7 linked regions of the Homo sapiens genome follow. The protein of the gene in region 1 interacts with the protein of each later gene in a pairwise test. Each region holds a gene or a part of one and is shown in the gene's direction. Other genes may lie near its edges.

Region 1 (3,500 bases):
AATTAAAGTGTCACAATGTTTTAAAAAATAATATAGCAAGAGGCCTGGTACGGTGGCTCACGCCTATAATCTCAGCACTTTTGGGAGGCACTCCAGCCTGGGAGATAGAGCAAGACTGTGTCTCAGAAAAAGAAAAAAAAAGATAATATAACAAGAAATACTAATTTGGTGGTAACTGACTGGGACTAAATTGCCAGTGTGCGCCAATAAAAACTAGTAAAATGGAACAGGACATGGTGTCAGCAGTATAGATGGTACTTTTAGGCACACTGGGTTTCCCCCAACTTCATTTTTTAAGACTATCAGTGCATTTCTTTAATTGTAGAGCAATTTTGAAATGCAGTCTTCGCTGGGCTTGGTGGCTTACGCCTGTCATCCCAGCACTTTGGGAGGCCAAGGTGGGCGGATCACCTGAGATCAGGAGTTCGAGACCAGCCTGGCCAACATGGTGAAACCCCATCTCTACTAAAACTACAAAAATTAGCCACGTGTGGTGGTGCATGCCTGTAGTCCCAGCTACTCAGGAGGCTGAGGCAGGAGAATTGCTTGAACCCGGGAGGCGGAGGTTGCAGTGAGCTGAGATCACGCCCCTGCACTCTAGTCTGAGACTCTTGTATCAAAAAAAAAAAAAAAAAGAAGAAGGAAAAGAAATGTAGTCTTAAGTTTATTTAGTATTATAACAAGCTTTTTTAAGATGCAGAAGTTTTTCAATCTGTGATTTCACTACAAAGGCCCTATATGTAAGCATATATGTAAATAGCTTAGAAGCACAGGTTTGCCAGTATTTAAAGCTATTATCAGCTGTGGGTATGCAATCTGTCAAGTTTCTAGGTGTTTTCTTTTTTTTTCCCCCCTCATTTATTACTTTTAACTGACACATAATAGTTGTACATACTTACGGGGTACAGTGTGACATTTTGATAGATGTATACAAGCAGGTGTTTTCTATATTATGAAAACATTTGGAGAAAAATGATTGACTTATTGTAGTCCTTTTCTTTCAGCTGCTTTTCTAACCCAAACTGTATGTCTTGATGACACTACAGTAAAGTTTGAAATATGGGATACAGCTGGTCAAGAACGATACCATAGCCTAGCACCAATGTACTACAGAGGAGCACAAGCAGCCATAGTTGTATATGATATCACAAATGAGGTAAGTATGGATGCATTCCACAGTAAAACTAATTTGAGTACCCACTTTTGGTGTTCAGAATTTTGATTAAATGTTTTGGAAAATCTTTTTCTGATAGTCATGACCTTTCTGCTGAAGCTTTTGTGAATTAGAAAATCTGGTTTTAAAAAAAAACGAAAATGTCTCATAATACAATAGTCCTAATAATTTCTTTCCCACAGTCACTTGGGACAGTCTTTTAAAGCCTTGTATCACAAAGATGCTTGGTAACCATTTTTTGAGCCTGTGCTCAATGGCTGTTTCTTTGTTTAACAGGAGTCCTTTGCAAGAGCAAAAAATTGGGTTAAAGAACTTCAGAGGCAAGCAAGTCCTAACATTGTAATAGCTTTATCGGGAAACAAGGCCGACCTAGCAAATAAAAGAGCAGTAGATTTCCAGGTATGTTAAATTTAACTCTCATTTGAAAGGCACTTTTTTCCTGTATGTTTTTCTTTCATGTCAACACTTGAATTAGTTATAATGTCAAAACCATGCAAGTAATAGAAAATACTGATTTTTAAAACAAATATAAAGTACTACATATAATAAAATGTTTCTGATAAACCTAAATTTTTAAATAGATTATTGTAATATATAAACTGACCCAAAGATTTTGTAGACTTAAACAATAAAGGCCGGGTTCAGTGGCTCACGCCTGTAATCCCAGCACTTTGGGAGGCCGAGGTGGGTGGATCACCTGAGGTTGGGAGTTCAAGACCAACCTAACCAACTTGGAGAAACCCTGTCTCTACTAAAAATACAAAATTAGCTGGAGATGGTAGTGCATGCCTGTAATCCCAGCTACTTGGGAGGCTGAGGCAGGAGAATCTCTTGAACCCAGGAGGCGGAGGTTGTGGTGAGCCAAGATCACACTATTGCACTCCAGCCTGGGCAACAAGAGCAAAACTCCGTCTCAAAATAAAAAAGAAAAACAGTAAAAGTAGTCATTGTTCACAGTGCAGAAAGTGATTGTATCCTGCCCTAATTCCTCCATCCCACACATACTTTATGTCCTAACCCTCTTCTACTCATGTGCAAATATGTATCAGCACATGTGTGTACCCCACATATGTACATACGCAAACACTTATGTGGTTGTTCTTAAAGGGGCATTCAAACATAAAGGTTCTGCCAATCTGTATCCAGAGTTGGAAAATAATAAGCTAAAAACTAATAATTAAAAAAAATTTTTTTAAGGCTGAGAAAATCCAGTTTTGTATTACGATTGCTAATTCAGAATGTTTGCTGCTGCAAAATAGGCAAGTGCAATCACTTAAAAACAAAGCAAGTCCTCTATTTAGACTTTTTTTTTTTTTTTTAAGATGGAGTCTTGCTCAGTTGCCCAGGCTGGAGTGCAGTGGCGCAATCTCAAGCTCACTGCAAGCTCCACCTCCTGGGCTTACGCCATTCTGCTGCCTCAGCCTCCCAAGTAGCTGGGACTACAGGCGCCCACCACCACTCCTGGCTAATTTTTTGTGTGTTTTCAGTAGAGACAGGGTTTCACTGTGTTAGCCAGGGTGGTCTCGATCTCCTGACCTTGTGATCCACCCGCCTCCGCCTCCAAAAGTGCTAGGATTACAGGCGTGAGCCACCACGCCCGGCATACTTAGACCTTTTAAAACTGTGCCTGTTCTCTTGCTCTTTGGCTTCTCTACTAGAAGGGCGGTTGTGGCTGTTCTGTATATATCAGTGATGAAATAGTTTTCTTTTTTGATGACGTAGATGGAATCCATGTATTCTTGCATCATTAGGTATTAAGTTGGGCATGTTACATTTGTAATTTTATTTAATTCTTAGGACAACGATGTGAGATGTAGTATCCATTACTCTTTCCAAAATTGTTGCCTTCCCAGCACAAGAGTGGCAGAGAAAACACTTAAATTACAGTCAGAAGTGGCCCTGTCACATAACAGTTCAGAGGAACCTCAGTTGTTTCTTTGTCCAATGGGAAAGATCATTGGTTACCCCTCACAACAGCTATGAGGATCAAAAGTAATAATATATGTAAACTGTAAAAGCATGACAAAAATGTAGGGCAGTGATGTAATTTTCAAAGGAATGATTTATGATATATTCAAGATTATAATATTGCTGTAGAAGTCATTGAAAATTAAATATGAGGTTGTCATTTAGTGTTTGAAGCCAGTGTTAGATATTTGGTTTCCCTTTGTCTTCATTGCAGACAGTAAGTGCAAATAAAAATTGCCGTTGAGATCAAAGAGAGTTTTATTTAGAATAAGATAATTCTCCCCCATCTCTGGAACTCAGTATTTGAAAGCAGATTTAATGTAAGAAAAGATTAATCAAGGTGGGATAATGCAAGAAT
Region 2 (3,500 bases), on another chromosome or scaffold:
TATTTTCCAGACTTCCCAAGCTACCAATAAAGAAATTTCTACATGATTTTAATAAATACACAAAAGTTACCGAAGTTGAATGATAACGTTTAAGTAAAAAGGCTTAGTATAAGTTCGTGTCCCTTCATTGGTTCAAGAACCTCTTAAGTCTGAAAATTTTTCAAGTCTTGAAAATTGTAAAACAAGGATAATTGAGGGTTTTATAAGAGGAAGTAAAAAAGAAGTTTGACATGTTCAGGTGAAAAAGTAAAACTAACACTTTTTCTTATTTTTAAGTGAGGGATCTGACTCCTTAATTTTCTAGTTTTTCTTTTAATCAAGGGCTCTATTACTGTCACCATTGAGAAATTGTAATAATATCAAGAGACATGTAGGTAAGTGGTCACTTTAGGTACAAAATATTGATTGGGTTAAGCCCAGTTGCTGGCATTGGTTGGGTGTAGAGAGTAACAAAAAAAGAAAGAAGGACGTAGATATGACTATTTAAAAGAGGCTCTTAATTTTGTAACTCCTGTTATGTGAATCTAAAGGTCTGATTGTTAAAGCAGTTGAACCCAAAGTTCTTGTTTTATGTGGCTTACTCATGGTAGTTTGGCATTGCTAACCACTCTGGGCTTGCAACTTTCTTGTTAATTTTTGCAACATTATTCTCGCTTGATTTTTTTCTTTACTTCTCTGACTGGTCTTTCTTAAACCTGTCTTTGAGTGTATACTCTTACATTTGATGTTCCTCTGGATTATCTCTTCACCCCTCTTCTTTCTCATGATGCTCTTGCACATTATTTTTAAAAATATTACCCACTCTTGATAGTGTATCTGCACTGAGACACGTACTGGAAGCTATATATTGTTTGACATCTCAATCTAAAACAACTCATCTTTCTTACTTATGACTAGAGTTCCTCCTCTTCATTTATATTCTTTTCTTGGTGAACATCAGTGTCTACCAATTTCTAAATGCAAAGGAGAAAGATACAATTTTAAGCGAAATGGTGGTGATATGCACAACTTGCAGAAGGTTACATAAAACTTGGGTTTTCAGAGATGATTTTTTCTTTTCTTTTTAGGATATGTTCAAGGAATGAGTGATTTACTTTCCCCTCTTTTATATGTGATGGAAAATGAAGTGGATGCCTTTTGGTGCTTTGCCTCTTACATGGACCAAATGGTAAGAACAGAGATTCCTTCCATTAAACTGATTTTTAAAATTTTAGTTGTATAATTTTATAGTATAAGGTTGATTTTTATATTTAGCCAACTATGATGGAACTTAAAAAAATTACCTCATGCCTTTTGTTACTTTTTCTTTTTAGTAGCCTTTCAAGGGCTTAGAAATACTGGTGGTATTTTTAATACAGGAAATAGTTTGTGCCTGTAGTATAGGAATAATCAGGATTTAATATCAGTAAATGCTTATTTTCTACTAAAGAGCCATGTGTCATTACAGAATATTGATAAAATAGATGAATTCAATTTTGTGGAATAGTTGAACTTTAATATCATCTGTTTCAGAGATAAAGCTTAGTCATGCCAAGTAATATCCTTACCTTTTGTGAAGATTTTGAATTTTGTCATTATAGTAACTGATTTTTCTCCAGATGTGTTTGAACTATTTGTAACTCTGACACTTTCTTAGGAATTCATTGTTATTTTCCCAGAAGTATGTGATTATTAGAATTGAACTGTCTATATATACATGTTAGTACAAAGAACATTTTATCTATTATCATTGTTAAATCTTTGAGACAGAGTTCTAGGATAATAGTGCAGAGAATATTGACAGGAAAATAAAAGAAAAGTCTCTTCAAGCAATCTCAGAAAAATAAAAGCAGAAGGGGTGAGACTAGATAAAGGCAGATGAAGTCCAAAGACCTGACTACATAGAGGTTGCTGTGTTTTTTCAAAATAACACTAACATACTGGATGCTGGGCCTTTATGTTGGATATTGAAATGGCTGGCTTGCTTGCAAGGGATAAACATTTTGAATCTAACCATCTGAAATATTTTCCTGTAATACAGGGTTTAACTCAGAGTTTCTGGGATACAAATGTGAAATTTGGAAGTGGTACCCTTCTCCTTTTTTCTTTACTTCTATTCTTTCCCTTTTGCTTGCCTATTTTTCTTTCTCCTTCAAATTTTCCCTGCTTGTGGCTATTTCCCCAAATCTCTTGTCCATAGATTCAACTTGTTTTTGCTTCTTTCAGTTTTTTTCTAAATGTATACTTGGTAAGATTTGATAGATTTAAAATGTTCTTTTACATTAAATTCATGAATATTCAAATTGGTTTTTTGCCATAAATTAATTTTTTTTGACTATTTGGAAGGATTATCAATGCAGTAATTTGGTAATGTCATAGTTTGTCTTCCTTCCTTTTTTGATTGATTTGTCTACCTTCTTAGTTCCATTTACTCCCAAGTGCTCTAGAAACCTGAGGCATTTGTTATAAAGGTCTGTACAGCTGATACTAATTACATAAAAACTGTTGTCTGCCTTCCTTGTGTTTTTGTTGTTTATCCTCTTTTCACCAGAGCTAGTATGTTCCTTGATAAAAGGGATTATATCTTGTTTCACTGGTAGCATACCAGAATTTTCCTAATGCCTGACATGAGGTTGTTCAACGGGTTTTTGTAGAATAAACATGTGAATCTTTCCCCAGTGATTAGTTTAAATTGCTATAGTAGATATTCTAAAAAAAAAAAAAAAAACACAACTAAGATGAACATACTGCATTTAGTATCATGCAATAAGTTTTCAATAAAACTAATCCAATATTGGCATGTAAATATATATTGACATATAATGCCACATACACACATGCATACAGACGTGTGTATATAGGTCTCATATGTAAAGACTACCTTCTGAACATGTGTAATAAACACTTTACAGTCCGTCATTTTTTGTGTATGAAGGTTCAGTTTCTTTGTTCTGTCATTTTCACAGTAAATGCTCTCTGTGTTTGCCTTTTCCATTAAGGATGTTCTGGGGATTTTTCTAGTCTTTATTCTAAAAAAGATATCTTATGATTATGTTGTCTGCTAACATCTTTTCTTTCATAATATTTGAATGAGAGGGAAATATATGGCAATCAAAATAACCTGTATGATTGTTTTTCACTGCATTGCCCTTGTTTGATGTCCCTAAATCTGTGCTGCTGTTTCTTGATTCTGTGTTTCTGTTTTATAGCTTTACTTCATGTAAGTTTGTACTACCTTTGTGGTGGCTGAACCTAACGTCTGTAAATTTACTTTTGTTGATGTTTACTTGCATCTAATGTAGGTCTAGGCATAGACTTTGTCTATTATCATGGAAATACAAAGTACAAGTGATCTGATGAACTTTGTTATACCCATCATCCATTTTGCCATATAGTTTTAATTCCTTTCTCCTCTCCATCTCCCCCTCCCCTGCCCCATACAGACACATTTATTTACAGACACATTTGAAGCCCTTTGTATATCCATTGTTGATCCCACTCTCCCTTCTCCAGGAGTAACC
Region 3 (3,500 bases), on another chromosome or scaffold:
GGAGCTGCATAAGCAGAGACCATATGGTGATGTCGCTGGGATGCTGGCAGGGGATCTACACCGTGGTTGGGTGTGTGGAGGGGTGGATTGACAGAGTGGAGGGAGCAGACGAATGGCTGCTGACATCTAAGAACCTGAGGTAGTCTAGGCCCATGGCTGCTGGCTCCAGAATTGCACCATCCTGGGATTGTGGCTGCCCTTTCACTTTCAATCATTTCTTTTGCAGGAAAACAAGAGTAGAGGCCAATTCTCCTCTTCCAAAGAACTCTGGATCCCTAAATGAGGCAGAAGCCTTGAACCCAGAAGTTACTCTATCTTCAGAGGGGTCCTTAAACCTCGAAGACATTCTCTACCTGGAGGACACAGGTGACCTTGATGAGACACTCTATGTGCAAGAGACTGAGAAGGCAGAGGAGGCCCTGTATATTGAGGAGGCCATGCAGCCAGATGAGGCTCTGCATGTGGAGGAGCCTGGGAATCCAGAGGAGACAGTGTGTGTGGAGGAAACCACGGAGCCAGATCGGATACAGTTTGTGGAGGGGCCCGTGGAGCCAGGAAAGCCCACAAGCCCAGAGCACGTTGTTTATGAGGGAGAGACAGTCACAAGGGCGGAGAAATCTAACCCTGAGGAGAGCCTCAGAGCCGAGCAGAGCCCCAGCATGGAGGAGAACCTGAGCATAGAGGACCTGGAATTGCTAGAGGGGCGTTTCCAGCAGTGTGTCCAAGCTGTGGCCCAGCTGGAAGAGGAGAGGGATCAGCTCATCCATGAGCTTGTATTGCTCCGGGAACCAGCCCTGCAGGAGGTACAGCAAGTCCATCAAGACATCCTGGCTGCCTACAAGCTCCATGCCCAAGCAGAGCTGGAGAGAGATGGCCTAAGGGAGGAGATCCGGCTGGTCAAGCAGAAGCTTTTCAAAGTGACAAAGGAATGTGTGGCCTACCAATACCAGCTGGAGTGCCGCCAGCAGGACGTGGCTCAGTTTGCCGATTTCCGGGAAGTGCTGACTACAAGGGCAACCCAGCTCTCAGAGGAACTGGCCCAGCTCCGGGATGCCTATCAGAAGCAGAAGGAGCAGCTGCGGCAACAACTAGAAGCCCCTCCAAGCCAGAGGGATGGGCACTTTCTCCAGGAAAGCCGGCGACTCTCTGCCCAGTTTGAAAATCTCATGGCAGAGAGCCGCCAGGACCTGGAGGAGGAGTATGAGCCTCAGTTCCTGCGGCTCCTAGAGAGGAAAGAAGCTGGGACCAAAGCTCTGCAGAGAACCCAGGCTGAGATCCAGGAAATGAAGGAGGCTCTGAGACCCCTGCAAGCAGAGGCCCGGCAGCTCCGCCTGCAAAACAGGAACCTGGAGGACCAGATCGCACTTGTGAGGCAAAAACGAGATGAAGAGGTGCAGCAGTACAGGGTAGGCCCATTGGGCATGAAAAGAACTGAGGTCTTTTAACCTGGGGAAAGAGTGGCCAGAGTCCAAGGTCTTTGGGGCTGAAAGATAGTGTCACATGTAGGAAGAAAAATTTGTTCTTTGGGGCCACGCAATTTTTTCTCCATTCTTCATTCATTCAGGCCCATGCTAGGGACTAGAAGTTATCTGCACTGTTTTTTGTTTTTTTTTTTTTGAGATGGAGTCTCGCTCTGTCGCCCAGGCTAGAGTGCAGTGGTGCGATCTCAGCTCACTACAAGCTCTGCCTCCTGGGTTCATGCCATTCTCCTGCCTCAGCCTTCTGAGTAGCTGGGACTACAGGTGCTCACCACCATGCCCGGCTATTTTTTTGTATTTTTAGTAGAGTCGGGGTTTCACTGTTGTTAACCAGGATGGTCTGGATCTCCTGACCTCGTGATCCGCCTGCCTTGGCCTCCCAAAGTGCTGGGATTACAGGTGTGAGCCACCGCGCCCGGCCTGCACTCTGTTTTTTTTGCGACAGGGTCTTGCTGTCACTTAGGCTGGTGCAGTGGCATGATCACAGCTAACTGCAGCCTCGACCTCTCAGGTTCAAGCGATCCTCCCACCTCAGCCTCTTGAGTAGCTGGGACCACAACTGTGCACCAACATGCCCAGCTAATTTTTTCTTTTTTGAGACAGGTGCAATCTTGAGGGCTCACTGCACCTCAAACCTCTTGGGCTCAAGCGATCCTCCTGCCTTAGCCCCCAAGCAGCTGGGACTACAAGTGTGTGCCACCATACCTGGCTAATTTTTTGTAGAGACAGGGTTTCACCACGTGGCCCAGGCTGGATTTGAACTCCTGAGCTCAAGCTATCCGCCTGCCTTGGCCTCCCAAAGAGCTAGGATTATAGGTGTGAGCCACCGCAGCCGGCCAATTTTTGTATTTTTTGTAGACAGGGTTTTGCCATGTTGCCCAGGCTGGTCTTGAAATCCTGGGCTCAAGTACTTTTAATGGCAAAAGCTGCAATTAATTTTGCACCAACCTTAATAGAATCCTCTCATCTTCACTTTCCTTTTATGTGCATTTGTCCCCATCTCTCTTGCATTCAAGTTATTTCTGATTAAGTGTGAGCCAGTTCTAATCCCTTTTTAGAACAGAGTGGGATATAAATACTAAGTGAATAAACAATTACGTAGTCCCTCCTAGACTGTGAACTTTCAGAAGGTAGGGAATACATTTTACTTATTGTTGTATTACTCTCTGCTACTCAAGGCTCAGAGCACATGTGCTGCTGGGCACTAATGAGAAGACTGTAGTGTGGTGCTCTAAGCAGTACTTTAATCTTTTGAAACACTGATTCCTTTGGATAAACTTAGAAATCTATGTCTTCCCAGAGATTGTGATATGCCCTTAAGGGAACAAGTTTCCCTGTTGAAATGGCTGCATTCACTTCACTGAAGATTTTGTCAAGCTTTCTGTAGTTTGTATTATGAAAACACTCTGTCTGGGAGCGGTGGCTCACGCCTGTAATCCCAGCACTTTGGTTGGGAGGCTGAGGTGGGTGGATCACAAGGTCAGTAGTTTGAGACAAGTATAGCCAATATGGTGAAACCCCGTCTCTACTAAAAAGACAAAAATTAGGGGGGCATGGTGGCACATGCCTGTAGTCCCAGCTACTTGGGAGGCTGAGGCAGGAGAATCGCTTGAACCCGGGAGGCGGAGGTTGCAGTGAGCTGAGATTGCACCACTGCACTCTAGCCTGGGTGACAGAGTGAGACTCCATCTCAAAAACAAACAAAAACAAACAAACAAAAAAAAAACACTGTGGTTTTTGGGGTCATAATACTGAATGTTTTTTATTTTTATCTTTATTTATTTATTTTTGAGACAGAGTCTTGCTCTTTCACCCAGGCTGGAGTGCACTGAACCAATCTCGGCTCACTGCAAACTCCACCTCCCGGGTTCAAGCAATTCTCATTTCAGCCTCCTGAGTTGCTGGGACTACAGGTGCCCGCCACTGCACCCAGCTAATTTTTTGTATTTTAGTAGAGATGGGGTTTCACCATGTTGCCCAGGGTGGTCTCAAACTCCTGAGCTTAGGCAGTCCACCCGCCTC
Region 4 (3,500 bases), on another chromosome or scaffold:
TACTTTTTTCTTTTTTTTTGAGACGGAGTCTTGCTCTGTCGCCCAGGCTGGAGTGCAGTGGTGTGATCTCGGCTTACAGCAAGCTCCACCTCCCACCATTCTCCTGCCTCAGCCTCCCGAGTAGCTGGGACTACAGGCGCCCCCCACCACGCCCAGCTAATTTTTTGTATTTTTTAGTAGAGATGGGGTTTCACCATGTTAGCCAGGATGGTCTCCATCTCCTGACCTCGTGATCCGCCCCCCTCGGCCCCTCAAAGTGCTGGGATTACAGGCGTGAGCCACCGCACCCGGCCGATGGTGTTCCTGTCTTTAGGGAACCGTGGAAGAAACTGTTGTCTGGTGTCAATATCCCTGTGCAGTCACTTCTGCACTAGAATTGCTTTTCCACTAATAGAGCTCCTCCTGTTTCCTTCTTTGCCTTGGGAAGTTCAGAGCCAAATCTGCTTTGACTAACCAGACTAAGGCTTCATGGCAAACACTTTGTGTCTAATTTTCTCTTAGCTTCATTTTTCTCGCTATAAAGAAAAATCTTGCCTTATTAGAGGACCTTCACAAGACACTTTAAAGGCTGTGGGACAAGGCAGGGTACAACTAAAAGTGGCACCAACTCTAACCACAGATTAGTATGGGCTCTGGCTGGAAAATAAGACAGACAAATAAGCCAGTCAACACAAAACCCGCCAAGCCAGTCTCCAGCTGGGGATTTCCACTCTTGTGTCTTTATGTGGCCTCAGTCGGTTCAGCCTGTGTCTCATTGTCAGCTGTTTGAGCCAAATTCTGGATGAAGTGTTTTCCTAGGCATAATGGGTGTTGTGCTTTAAGAGAGGCAAGATGCACAAAGTGTTACATGTAATTGTCTCTTTTTAAATAATGGTCGTTTTTAAGGCTATGGAATACAAAGGAATCCTTCCATGGAGAAGCATGCTATTCTCACATCAGAAAACGGTTTCAGGGCTTTGTCATCTTTTTTTTTCAAATTCTCTTGGGCCACAGCTAATGATTTTAATCATTCACCGTTCCCACCTTCTATGTGTTCATTCGTTTATTCATCAATATGTACTGAGCCAGGTCACTTGCTGGACATTAGGAGCTCACAGTTGGGTGGGGGACTTGCTCAGAAACAGTTATTTACAATACAGCTTAAACAATTTTGTAAATATGAAGCTAGCAAAATTATGTCCAAGAAATGTCTGACACTCTCTGGCTGGGAGAAGGATGCAGTCTGGGAAGACTTCTAGGAAGAGGTGATGGTAGGGTTGGGTGCTGGACAATGAGTAGGAGCACACTGTATATAGAGAGGACGCAGAGAGGACAGACAGGAACTGTGTACATGTGAGAGCTTGACAGGCTGGGGAACCAGCTGGGGTGCAGCCTGACTTGAGGAGAGGTGAGGGTATAAGGGTGGGGGGATTGAGAGACACAGCTGGATCCATAGGCCATAGTTAGTTCATGAAGGCCTTATGTGCCATGGAGTTCAGACTTTGTCCTGTAATGAGATAGGAGACAGGAATGTTTGTTTGTTTGTTTTTGAGACAGGGTCTCACTCTATTGCCCAGGCTAGAATGCAGTGGCTCAATCTCAGCTTACTGCAACCTTTGCCTCCCAGGTTCAAGGGATTCTCCTGCCTCAGCCCCTGGAAGAGCTGAGACGACAAGCACGTGCCACCATGCCCAGCTAATTTTTGTATTTTTAGTAGAGACAGTGTTTCACCATGTTGGCCAGGCTGGTCTCAAACTCTTGACCTCAAGTGATCTGCCCACCTTGGCCTCCCAAAGAGCTGGGAGGTGTGAGCCACTGCACCCAGCCCAGGGGAGTGTTTTGAACTGAGGGATGAAAGCATTCACATGGTCAGATTAGTGCTTTAGAAAAGTCACTTTAGAGATAGAGTGGAAGATGGACAGAGGAGGCCAGGATGGGAGGCTGGAAGAGAACTTGGGAGGAGGCCACAATGTCCAGGAGAGAGATGATGGTGGCCTGGACCAAGACAGGGGCAGTGGGGATGGGGAGAAACAGGCAGGTCAAGAGATGCCACAGGAATGGAGATTGGAATTGGAGAATGGGTAGGAGGAATCCCCAGATGATGCCTGGGTTTCTGGCCTGAGAGATGAAGGGCTGGGATTTCTGTTCTCTGAGTCTGCAAAGGCAAAAAAGTGGCTGTGCTCGGTTTCATGCATTGATTTATTCCATCATACATATGTTTTGAGAACCTGTGTGTCAGGTCTGGTGCTAGCTGCTGGAGTTTGGGGTTACCAGGTGGTGCCATGTGTCCTCTATCGACCCCTCATCCTACCCTACTCATCTGCCCTCTGAGCCCCCTCTCGCCTCCCCGGAGCTGCTCCCTGCCCACCCTGGACTTCCTGCTAGTGCTTGGTCTCCCCTGGCCAGCTCCATTCCAGCGCTCTGGGTGTGACCTTAGGCCTGGTTCCCCACCAAAATGAGGTTGGACTCTATAGACTCCTGGCCTCCTAGGCTGAATGGGGCTTGCAGGCCATCTCACAGCCCCCTCCCAATGTACAGCATGCTGCCAGGTGGGATCTGCCCCTGCCCAACAGCCAAGTGCTAGGCCACCCTCCCTCCCTCCTGAGGCCCTCATCTGTCCACCCCTTCTCGGGTGGGCAGCACTGCCACTGCCAGCCAAGCCTGATCACCTGAGGCAGTCATCTTCCTTCCAACTCCTGGCCAGGACAGAGCTTCAGAAAATGCAGCCATGGTTCTTACCTGCAAACATGAGAATCCACTGGAACTGTTTTAAGCAAGAAAGGAGTTTATGGAAGAGTATGAGATAGCCCATAGGATCTCCAGGAGGGCCAGAGAGTCGGGATGGAAGATGGGCAGCAGGAATGAAGTCCAGACTCCAGCAGGGGTTGGTGCCAGTATAGGCCCCACGGCACCCCTGCTGGGCAAGACATCACCACTCACACCACTGACCAGAGCCCCCACCACTGCTGTCCCTCAGTGCCACATGCCACCATCACTACCTTCACCGTCATTTCCAAATCCACGCTTTGGCTTGGAGGCGTCTGGTCACACTCCTGCAGCACAGGTGCAAAGGGAGCTGGGAGAGGGGGTTTTCTAGCTTCTCCTTAGTGAAGCCACATACCACAGGAAAGTATTGAAGAGGGGCTGTCCAGGTGCAAAACAGGACACATGTCCCCTGCGGTGGCCACACCCCCTCAGTCAGCACTGCAGCTGAACCTTGCTGGCCTTTGGCGTCCTTCTTAGAACATGGTTTCCTGCTCCACCTTTGAATAAGCTCCAGGTGCTCCTTCCCCAGGGAGACTGACCTCTCACCCTTTTTGTACCCAAGGCAGACCCGTGGCGCAGTGTGTGTGAGGCTGAAGCCTCTCTGGGAAGGGCCCCGTGTCAGCCTGACCCTGCCTTCTGCATGCATAGCTGGCACAGAGTAGGTTTCAATGAACACGTAAGGAAGGAAGGAAAGGAGGAAGGATGGAGAGGGAGGAATCCCCAGTGCCAGCACTGAAAAACCGCACCTCCGCATG
Region 5 (3,500 bases), on another chromosome or scaffold:
AGTAGCTGGGACTACAGGCACACGCCACCACGCCCAGCTAATTTTTGTATTTTTAGTAGGACAGGGTTTCACCATGTTGGCCAGGATGGTCTCAATCTCCCGACCTCAGGTGATCCACCCACCTCGGCCTCCCAAAGTGCTGGGATTACAGGCGTGAGCCACCGGGCCCAGCCTGTCATCTGATTCTCTAATGTAAGGGTCAGGACTTTTTCCCCCACTGTTGTGTCCCAGCTCTTAGAAGCTGCCTGGCTCTTAGGGGTGCTCAGTCCCCATTTGCTGATGAATGAATGAGTGGGAGGACAGCCAAGATCAGGAAAGGGGAGGGACTCCTGAGTGGGCCTTCCCAGCCCCTTCAGGCCTCCACAGCCAGATGTAGCTGATTTCTCTGCTACAAGCAGCCTGCAGGTGCTCTGTCACACTTTTACTCTGCCCTTTCAGAACCACCAACCAAACCCCTGCCTCTGGGGCCGATGGTGATGAGGAGTCTTTCTCATGCTCTCAACTGGGACATGTTATGTGGAACCATACACAGTTGTCATTTTTCTAGGCTGTAATGGATGAATATCGGCAATTTAATATGGTTCAACATAGTTTTTAGTATACCTCAATGAGGAGGGTCCATATATTAACAATAACTTTCTAAAAATTTTTAGGACTACTAATTGCCTGATACTTATTGAGTACTTATATGTGTCAGGCAGTGTGCTAAAGGCCTTATTTGCATCAGCTCACGTAATCCTCATAACCACAGTAAGGCATAGGTATTATTATTCCATTCTATCGAAAAGAAAACTGATACAGACGTGAAGTAAACTTGCCCACGGTTATAACAAGTGGGCACAGGCCCACTCTGCTACACGAGTAGCAGAGCTAGGATTGGACTGGAGATGTCTTTACTTTTTTTTTTTGAGACAGAGTCTCACTCTGTCACCCAGGCTGGAGGGCAGTGGTGCGATCTTGGCTCACTGCAACCTCTGCCTCCCGGGTTCAAGCAATTCTTGTGCCTCAGCCTCTCAAGTAGCTGCGATTACAGGGATGCATCACCATGCCTGGCTAATTTTTTTGTATTTTTAGTAGAGACAGGGTTTCACCATGGTGGCCAAGCTGGTCTCAAACTCCTGGCCTCAAGTGATCCGCCCACCTCAGCCTCCCAAAGTGCTGGGATTACAGGCGTGAGCCACCGCGCCCAGCCAAGATGTCTTTACTTTTAATCATGGTGCAGAGGATGAGCGCTGAGCCCACTCCCTCCCAAAGCTGACACGTGGTTGTTCTGCCACAGCCATTTGCCATCTCAGGCTCCAAGCCAGCAGGAGGCGTAATAGAGCACTGGGTTCCATTCCCAGGGCCATCTAGCTGGTGGCCATGTGTCCGTCATTTCACAGGGTGGGGTTACATGGTGTGGCAGGGCAAAGTTTTGGGAGTCCATTTGGAAACTATCAGTCTCTCCTAGGCTTATTTTCTGTTGTGTAAGGAATGAATGTGTTGTAAGGATTGAATGATGACATGACATGCTTTTTAAAATTTCTAGCTCAGTCTCTTTAATGTAAAAATATGTAATCATCCAGCTCATAGTTCTGAGGGAAACCCTATATCACATATATTTTACACTGAAGGAAGACATTAAAATTCCATTCTCTTCACACAGAACCAACCAACCAGGATGGCTGGCCTGTTGGGGAAGCAGGTTCTGCCATCTGGTTCTCAGCAGGCATGTCTGGAAGCAGGAGGGAGCGTCTCTCCCATTTGGGTACCAAAGCCTCTGTAACAGTCAGGAATGTTCTGCTGTGGCCTTTATCCTAAACTTGGCTTGGCCAGTGTGTGTCTGGGGCAGGAGCAGAGGCCGGGACACAGCTGAGCTGCCCACAGGAGCTATTTTTGCCCCCACACTTGTATGTCTTTAAAGAGAACTGGGATTTTCTCACAGCTCCTTTGAAGTGGTGGTTTGATTTTCCTCTTTTTTGCTTCTCACTTACCTAATTCTTCCCGATTTATCTAGAATTCCCAACACCAGAATTCCATGGCAGATAGCATGGAGAATAGGTTCTGTTATGGACCAGGATAACAACTGTCATTTCTGAATTCTCATTGTGTGAAAAATGGCAAAAGTAAATTTTTCTTCAGTGCCAGGTTTAGGTAAATATGATTTCAAAAACCGGAATGTAACTTGTCTTGAAATCTTTCAACCACATCTCCTCGTTGTCACCTACTTCCTTTCGTAGAGTGAGAGCCTTTAATTCTGTGGTTAGAAGTAAAAGGAAGTAAAGGCTTGGCCGGGCGCGGTGGCTCATGCTTGTAATCCCAGCACTTTGGGAGGCCGAGGCCGGCGGGATCACGAGGTCAGGAGTTCGAGACCAGCCTGGCCAATATGGTGAAACCCCGTCTCTACTAAAAAGACAAAAATCAGCCGGGTGTGGTGGTGCAACCCTGTAGTCCCAGCTACTCGGGAGGCCGAGGCAGAAGAATCTCTTGAACCCAGGAGGCAGAGGTTGCAGTGAGCTGAGATTGCACCACTGCACTCCAGCCTGAGGTGACCAAGCGAGACTCTGTCTAAAAAAAAATAAAAATAAAAATAGAATGACTTTCCTCTTTTCTCTTCTAACAGGGCAGATGATTCTGGACCAGATGAAGCCTGAGGAGCCTTCCAGCTCTAAGATAGCAGGATAGGAGACTTCTAAGATTGGAGCTGCAGAAGACTTGCCAGCCCACCAGCACAATGTCAGGTAGAGGCAGGGGCTGGACTTGGAAACGGGGTTTGAAGCTCTCACAGAGGAGCCAGAGGGATGGAAGGTGGCTTGTTTTCCATAAAACACCATCCAGATAAGAGAGGTGGAGATGGTAGGGAAGGCTTCTGGCTGGCTGAGAAAGTTATTAAAACTTCCTTCTCAGCTCTGCTCTCTAGCTCTCCTCCTCCAGCTCTCCAACCCGCAGATCTGCAGTCCTCAGGTGGAGAAAGAGGCCGGAAGATGAAGTTTGGTCATGTTTTGTAATGTGCTGCTGTTTCTTTCCCCTCTTCTCCAGAAATTTGCTGATTTCTAGGAGGTTTCTTTCACTCTGCTCCTTCCCTACCCAGCACGCTTGAGATGGGCCAGTCCCTTTAATGCTGGTGCTCTTAGAGGGAGAGGGTATTTCCTGATTTGAATTTTGCCTCTGCATTTTCTATTTTTTTTTTATTTTTTTGAGGCAGAGTTTCGCTCTTGTTGCCCAGGCTGGAGCGCAATGGCACGATCCTTGCTCACTGCAACCTCCGCTTCTTGGGTTCAAGCTATTCTCCTGCCTCCCGAGTAGCTGGGATTACAGGCATGTGCCACCACGCCCAGCTAATTTTGTATTTTTAGTAGAGATGGGTTTCTCCATGTTGGCCAGGCTGGTCTCAAACTCCTGACCTCAGGTGATCTGCCCACCTCGGCCTCCCAAAGTACTGAGATTACAGGCGTGAGCCACTGCGCCTGGCCTGCCTCTGCATTTTCTTGATTGTTCTCCTGGTCCTCTTTGGTTTTAGG
Region 6 (3,500 bases), on another chromosome or scaffold:
CAAGATATCAGATGTCGATTGACCACCCAAAGGCAAGAAATTGAGAGCACAAACAAATCTAGAGAGTTGAGAATTGCCGAAATCACCCATCTACAGCAACAATTACAGGTGAGGAAATATGCCTCTTAAAAGCTATTATATTAAACTGGCATCCTTTTCTCTAATTCATTTCATTTACTTACTTATTCAGTAAACATTAAGCAACTGTCTTGTACTAGGCACTGGGAAGCAAAAATGAAGTAGACAGGGTCCTTGTGTGAAAAGTAGCCTGTCAAGGAGACAAACTCAGCAAATATTTACTGAGCACTGCTTCGGGCCAGGTGCTTTTGCAGTTTCTGAGGCTACAGCAGGGACAGACACTCTGTCTTCTGGGAGCTTACCCTCTGTTTGCAGGAGGAACAGAGACTAACAAAATAAAGTGTGTACTGTATTAGAAGATGAAAAGTGCTATGGAGAGTGAGTAGGGAAGGGAATAGAGAGTCCTAGGGATAGGAAATGTTGTGATTTTAACTAAGGTAGCCAAGACAGGTCTTTCTGGATGGTGACATTTGAGCAGAGACTTGAAATTAATGACAGGCTAAGCCATGTGGGTATCTGGCAGAGCAAGATCTAGGCAGGGAAATAGTGCCAAAGTCCTGAGGTCGTAGCAGGACTCTGAGATGCCAGTTACAGCAAGGAGACTACTGGGTAGAGCAGGTGGGAGCTGGATCACACAGAACCTGTAGTCCACCAACAGGACTTTGGCTTTACTGTGGTAATTACAATAAATAAGTACACTTAAGTATTTTAGGGGGTCATATGAGAGCTATATGTATACTAAATAGTTGGAGACATACAGAGCACTTTTAGTAGTTCTGTCTTCATTTTAAAGCCTATCCAAAGTTGTTATAATATCACCTGGTTTGGTATCAAGTGCTGAACTACAGGGGCATCAAATTCATGTAAATATTGCCTGTGGATGATCATATTTGCCTGTGATTCCTTTATGTTAGGCTTTTTCTCAGCATGATGTTTTTGAGATGTGTCCATGTTACTGAGTGAATGACTCTTTTGTTTCTTTTCATCACTGAGTAGTGTTTCCTTATGTGTCCATTCACCTACTGGTTGATATTCAGGTTCTTTCCAGTGTGGAACTTTTATGAATAAAACTGCAGTGAGCATTTATGTACAAGTCTTTATGTGGAAATGGTTTATTTCTCTTGGGTAAACTTTTAGGAATGGAACTACTGTGTCATGTAAGTGTATATTTAACCCCATAAGAAACTGTCAGGCTGGGCACAGTGGGTCACACCTGTAAACCCAATACTTTGAGAGGGCAAGGTAAGAGGATTGCTTGAGCTCAGGAGTTTGAGACCAGCCTGGGAAACATAGCAAGACCCCATCTCTAAAAAAAAAAAAAAAAAACTTAAAAATTAGCTGGCATGGGGGCGTTCACCTGTAGTACCTGCCTGAGGCAGGAAGACCACTTGAGCCCACGATATCGAGGCTGCAGTGAGCTATGATTGAGCCACTGACTGCCTGGGCCACAGAATGAGACCCTGTTCAAAAAAAAAAAAAAAAAGAGAGAGAAAAGAGAAAGGAAAGAAAGAGAACTGACAAACTGCAAAGAGTTTGTACCATTTTACATTCTGATCATTTAATTTGTATTTCCCTGAAGGCTAATGATGTTGGGAATCATCTTACATGTTTATTGGCGAGTATTTTTTACTGTGCATCTTCGTTGAAGTGTCTGAACAAATCTTTTGCCCATTTTTTATTGGGCTGTTTGTCTTACTATTTACTTGTAAAAGTTCTTTTTATATTCTTAACAAGTCCTTTGTCAGATACGTGTTTTGCAAATATTTTCTCCCAATCTGGCTTGGGTTTAATTTTTGTTAGTGGTATTTTTTAAAGGGCAGAAGTTTTAAATTTTGATGAAGTTCAGTTTACCGTTTTTTTTCTTTTGGTGTTCATGCTTTTTATGTTCTATCTGAGAAATCTTTGACTACCCCATGACTGCAAATATTTTATTTTCTTCTAGAAGTTTTTGGGGCTTAAAAAAATAATTTTTACAAGTTTTTATAAATTGAAAAAAACTTAAAATTTTAAGTTTCATAGTTGTATCTTATATGTTTAGGTCTATGAGCTATTTCAAGTTGATTTTTGCAGATAGTATAAGGTAAAGGTTGAGGTTTATATTTTTACATACTGATACACAGTTGTTATAGCACCATTTATTAAAAACACTGGCTTTTTTCCCATTGAGTTACCTTGGTAGCTTGTTGAAAATCAGTTGAACATATTTGTAATGGTCTATTCTGGACTCTATTCTGTTCTTTTGATCTGTCTGTCCTTTACCAGTACCTCACCCTGTTGATACCTAATTTTTGAAGTCAAGTGATACGAATTCTCTGTTATTGTTCTTTTTAGAATTGTTTTTGGTTATTCCAGGTCCTTAACATTTCCATGTACATTTTAGAATCAGCTTATCAGTTTTTACAAAAATGCTTGGAATTTTGTTGGAATTCCATTGAATTTATAAATCAATTTGGGAAGATTTGACATCTCAGCAATAGTAAATCTATGGCATAAATCTCTATTTTGGTAGTTATAAATTTCTCTCAGCAATGTTTTGTAGTTTGCAGTGTCCAAGTCTTGTAGATACTTTGTAAAGTTTATCCCTAAGTATTTTGTGGCTTTTGATGCTATTGTATATTGCATATTTTTATTTTAGTTTCCAGTTGTTTGGTGCCAGTATATGGAAATAGAATTTATTTTTGTATATTGACCTTATATCTGTGATTGCTTAACTAACTTCCTTTGTGTGTCTTACTTTGTTGACCAGAACCTCCCATACTATATTGGATAGAAGTGGGAAGAGCCTTGTTCCCTCTCGATGAAGGAAAGCTCTCTCACCATAGAGTATAGTGTTAACCAGGGTTCTTGTAAACACCTTTTATCAGGTTGATGGACTTCTCCTTTTGCTGAGGGTTTTTATGATGAATGGGTGTTGAAATAGATCATATGTTTTTTCCCCGCATCTATTGAGATAAGTATGTGTTTTTTCTTTCTTATTTTGTTAATATGATGAAGTACATGGTTGCCATTTGAATGTTAAATCAGCCTTCCATTCTTGGGATAAACCACTCTTGGTCATGGTATATTACCCTTTATTAAAATATTTCACTACATTCCATTTCCCATTATTTTATTAAGGATCTTTTTAAATCTGTTGAATTCAATTCAACAGAGATATTGGTTTTTAGTGTTCTTCTAATATTCTTGTCTAGTTTTGATATCAGGGTAATGCTGGCCTCAGAAAATGAGTTGGAAAATATTCCTTCCTCCTCTATTTTCTAAAAGTGTTTGTGTTGAAATAGCATTTCTTCTTTAAATTTTGGTGGCATTCACCAGTGAAGGCCTCTGGGCCTGGAGCTTTCTTGAAGACTTAATTATAAAATTCATTATGCAGATATAGGGCTATTCTGATTTTCTTCTTCTCCTTGAATCTGTTTTGATTA
Region 7 (3,500 bases), on another chromosome or scaffold:
GTTGTCATGCTTGTTAGTGTGATGAGACCTGGTCTCTCTCCACTGGCTGTGATATTCAGGCAGCCAGACACAGGGTATCTGCCCAGGACAGGGCTGGGGGGTGCACCTCAGAGGGGTGCACACAGCTGGTGGGTCGCAGTTCACTTCCGGTCTGTTTCTTCAGTCCCTTTGTCCTGGAAAGGCACCTGCTTACCCTGATTGCGTTGGTGACCCCAGCCAGCAAGATGGCAAATGCCTACATCCCTGATAGTGCCCACCTCTTAGAGCGAGCACACGCTTGGCTGCTCCAGGCCATCTTGTGAGGTCTCCTTTCAACATCAAGAGCCTGTTGTGTTGTTGCCACATCCTGAGTTCTGGGCTGCAAGCCACCCTGCTACTCACCGATGCCGGGAGAGCAACCAAAATATGGGAAGTGTCGCAAGTTCCTATGAAGGAAGGCCGCCTAACACGGAGGCTAAACACACAGGCTGTAGAACCAGCCCGACCTGGTCAAATCCCAGCGTCTCACTCCCCAATCCGGTGACACAGGGCGAGTGCTTTCATGTTTCTGAGCCTCTTACCCTCATCTGTGAACTGGGGGCAAGGCCTATGATCAGGGGTCGGCAAGATAACCCAGGTAAAGCAAGGAGCCCGTGGGCTCACGCGCAGCAAGAACGCCATGGATGTTTGCTCCTCTGATTATCCTTGATGTTATTTTCCATAGTTTTCTTAAGGGTGAATTCCTCCCAGGAGTGAAGAGCCCTGGGTGAAAGGCTGGCTGCACCAATTCACAAGGAACTCTGCATCTGCCTGGGTCATCCTCTGTCCAGCTCCAAACCTAGCAGGCTGAACAAGACCTGGGACCCTTGTTTCTCTCCAGGAGGAAGCTTGAGTGAACGCAGGGTGGCCTATGCACTGACTGCAATTGTTCCCAAGATGTAGCATCCCTGTGTGCTCTTTGGAGGGTCCTGAGCCTCCGTCAGATGCTTGGCAGAGTGTGGTCCCCACAGATCAAGATTGCCTGTCCCTAGCCTGCTTTGGTGGCCACAGCCATGACTGAGCCCCTGGGGACTGGGTCGGTAGAGAGGCACGCACTGGAACTCAGCTCCACGGTGCAGGAGCCTTGGCTTCCCCTGACTGGGGCAGACGACCAGCTTCTTATTTTAAGCTCGAGGTTGACTGGAGTCAGAATCACTTTGTGGTGGGTGGCTGCTCCCCGCTTGGACAGCCGGGTCTGATCTCGCTGGCCACAATCCATAGGTTCGTCCTTCCCACATATAATAACCATGGAGGCCAAAACAGGCCCAATGTTCCTTCCTCCTCGTGTGCCTGTGATGTGTGTACTGTTGTGACCCCATTTTAGGGATGACTAGACTGAGGCCTAGGAAGGTCAAACCACCTGCCCCAGAGCACCCAGCTGGTTGGCCGCAGGAATTCCAGGCCTTCCGTCCCCTGTGCTCTCACCATGCCTTCCCCACGGCTCCAGAGCACAGTGTTGTCACCCCCCACCCTGTGTCATCAATGCCCTCCAATGTGGGCTCTCACACCAAGGAAGAGAACTGAAGCTGAGCTTATCACATCACCCCCGGCCTCACCCTACACTGCTGGGGAGGACTGAGTGGGGCTTCCCCTCTCGAGGCAGGAAGTGGTGGGAGAGGTTTGAAAGCGTCCAAGAGGGGAAAACAACCTCAACCTCGGAGTAGTGAAGCAAATGCCTTGAACAGCCCTCCCACCCGTGGACCCCGCCCACAGACCCCGCCCAGCACAGCAACACCTAGTCCCTGGCACAGACTGACCCCCTGCCCCTCTCTTGCTTCCACAGGTTTCTGGGACTCCTCGCTGAATCCTCCACAAGAAAGAGGGAAGCCAGCAGAGCCCCCAAGAGACCGGGCCCCCGGATTCCCCCTAGTCTCCAGCCTCAGGCCCACAGCCCATGACGCAAACTGTGCCTGTGAAATCGAGCTGTCGGTAGGAAATGACCGCCTGTGGTTTGTGAATCCTATTTTCATCGAGGACTGCAGCAGCGCCCTGCCCACCGACCAGCCACCTCTTGGAAATTGCCCTGCACGCCCTTTGCCGCCCACCTCTGATGCCACCTCACCCACCTCCAGGTGGGCCCCACGCCGCCCACCACCCCCTCCCCCAGTGCTGCCCCTGCAGCCCTGCAGCCCAGCCCAGCCCCCTGTGCTCCCTGCTCTTGCCCCCGCCCCTGCCTGTCCTTTGCCCACCTCTCCCCCAGTGCCTGCCCCCCACGTCACACCCCATGCCCCAGGTCCCCCAGACCATCCGAACCAGCCGCCCATGATGACCTGCGAGAGACTCCCATGCCCCACTGCAGGCCTGGGCCCCCTCAGGGAGGAAGCGATGAAGCCAGGGGCAGCCTCCAGTCCCTTGCAGCAGGTCCCCGCCCCGCCACTGCCTGCGAAGAAGAACCTTCCCACTGCCCCTCCCAGACGCCGCGTTTCCGAGAGGGTGTCCTTAGAAGACCAAAGTCCGGGGATGGCGGCAGAGGGGGACCAGCTCAGCCTGCCTCCCCAAGGGACCTCAGACGGCCCTGAGGACACGCCCCGGGAGAGCACGGAGCAAGGCCAGGACACAGAGGTGAAAGCCAGCGATCCTCACAGCATGCCAGAGCTGCCCAGGACAGCCAAACAACCCCCAGTCCCGCCCCCCAGGAAAAAACGGATCTCTCGACAACTGGCCTCGACCCTCCCAGCTCCCTTAGAGAACGCTGAGCTCTGCACACAGGCGATGGCCTTGGAGACACCCACGCCGGGTCCACCCAGAGAGGGCCAAAGCCCTGCTTCTCAGGCTGGGACTCAGCACCCTCCTGCCCAGGCCACTGCCCATTCCCAGAGCTCTCCAGAGTTCAAGGGCTCCCTGGCCTCCCTCTCAGACAGCTTGGGGGTGTCTGTCATGGCCACCGACCAGGACTCCTACTCCACCAGCAGCACGGAGGAGGAGCTGGAGCAGTTCAGCAGCCCCAGCGTGAAGAAGAAGCCCTCCATGATCCTGGGCAAGGCTCGGCACCGGCTGAGCTTTGCCAGTTTCAGCAGCATGTTCCACGCTTTCCTCTCCAACAACCGCAAGCTGTACAAGAAGGTGGTGGAGCTGGCGCAGGACAAGGGCTCGTACTTTGGCAGCCTGGTGCAGGACTACAAGGTGTACAGCCTGGAGATGATGGCGCGCCAGACCTCCAGCACGGAGATGCTGCAGGAGATTCGCACCATGATGACCCAGCTCAAGAGCTACCTGCTGCAGAGCACCGAGCTCAAGGCCCTGGTGGACCCCGCCCTGCACTCCGAGGAGGAGCTCGGTCAGTGCCCTGGGAGGAGGTGGCAGGGAGGAGAGGGCGGTGGGGCTCACAGACTCAGGAACCCCTTAGGACAAAAGAGGCCTATGCAGTGGACGCTGTTGGTGCCCACCCCCTATCCCTTCCTGGGCACCAGGAACTTTCTCTGGCTGCTGCAAGGTAGGCTGCTAATGGTGCCCGGCTCCCCCCCTTCCCTAGAGAATTGACC

Evidence for each region.
Region 2: the proteins of RAB5A (region 1) and TBC1D15 interact in a two-hybrid assay, tested with the Homo sapiens proteins (one study listed by BioGRID).
Region 3: the proteins of RAB5A (region 1) and SYNC interact in binary tests that used the Homo sapiens proteins (3 or more experiments, as listed by UniProt).
Region 4: the proteins of RAB5A (region 1) and TRIM14 interact in a two-hybrid assay, tested with the Homo sapiens proteins (one large-scale study listed by BioGRID).
Region 5: the proteins of RAB5A (region 1) and SGSM3 interact in a two-hybrid assay, tested with the Homo sapiens proteins (one study listed by BioGRID).
Region 6: the proteins of RAB5A (region 1) and ITSN1 interact in a protein complementation assay, tested with the Homo sapiens proteins (one study listed by BioGRID).
Region 7: the proteins of RAB5A (region 1) and RIN3 interact in a two-hybrid assay, tested with the Homo sapiens proteins (one study listed by BioGRID).

Annotation. Positions count from the first base shown.
Region 1 is NC_000003.12:19,974,597-19,978,096, forward strand, and holds part of RAB5A (ras-related protein Rab-5A), read left to right. Parts: intron 1-1,004; coding exon 1,005-1,156; intron 1,157-1,450; coding exon 1,451-1,573; intron 1,574-3,500. UniProt on the Homo sapiens protein: The small GTPases Rab are key regulators of intracellular membrane trafficking, from the formation of transport vesicles to their fusion with membranes.
Region 2 is NC_000012.12:71,912,759-71,916,258, forward strand, and holds part of TBC1D15 (TBC1 domain family member 15), read left to right. Parts: intron 1-321; exon of another isoform or gene 322-374; intron 375-1,067; coding exon 1,068-1,168; intron 1,169-3,500. UniProt on the Homo sapiens protein: Acts as a GTPase activating protein for RAB7A. Does not act on RAB4, RAB5 or RAB6.
Region 3 is NC_000001.11:32,692,771-32,696,270, reverse strand, and holds part of SYNC (syncoilin), read left to right. Parts: intron 1-226; coding exon 227-1,406; intron 1,407-3,500.
Region 4 is NC_000009.12:98,095,223-98,098,722, reverse strand, and holds part of TRIM14 (tripartite motif-containing protein 14), read left to right. Parts: intron 1-3,500.
Region 5 is NC_000022.11:40,398,094-40,401,593, forward strand, and holds part of SGSM3 (small G protein signaling modulator 3), read left to right. Parts: intron 1-2,602; 5' UTR 2,603-2,713; coding exon 2,714-2,720; intron 2,721-3,499; coding exon 3,500-3,500. UniProt on the Homo sapiens protein: May play a cooperative role in NF2-mediated growth suppression of cells.
Region 6 is NC_000021.9:33,775,001-33,778,500, forward strand, and holds part of ITSN1 (intersectin-1), read left to right. Parts: coding exon 1-108; intron 109-3,500. UniProt on the Homo sapiens protein: Adapter protein that provides a link between the endocytic membrane traffic and the actin assembly machinery. Acts as a guanine nucleotide exchange factor (GEF) for CDC42, and thereby stimulates actin nucleation mediated by WASL and the ARP2/3 complex.
Region 7 is NC_000014.9:92,649,781-92,653,280, forward strand, and holds part of RIN3 (ras and Rab interactor 3), read left to right. Parts: intron 1-1,801; coding exon 1,802-3,295; intron 3,296-3,500. UniProt on the Homo sapiens protein: Ras effector protein that functions as a guanine nucleotide exchange (GEF) for RAB5B and RAB31, by exchanging bound GDP for free GTP. Required for normal RAB31 function.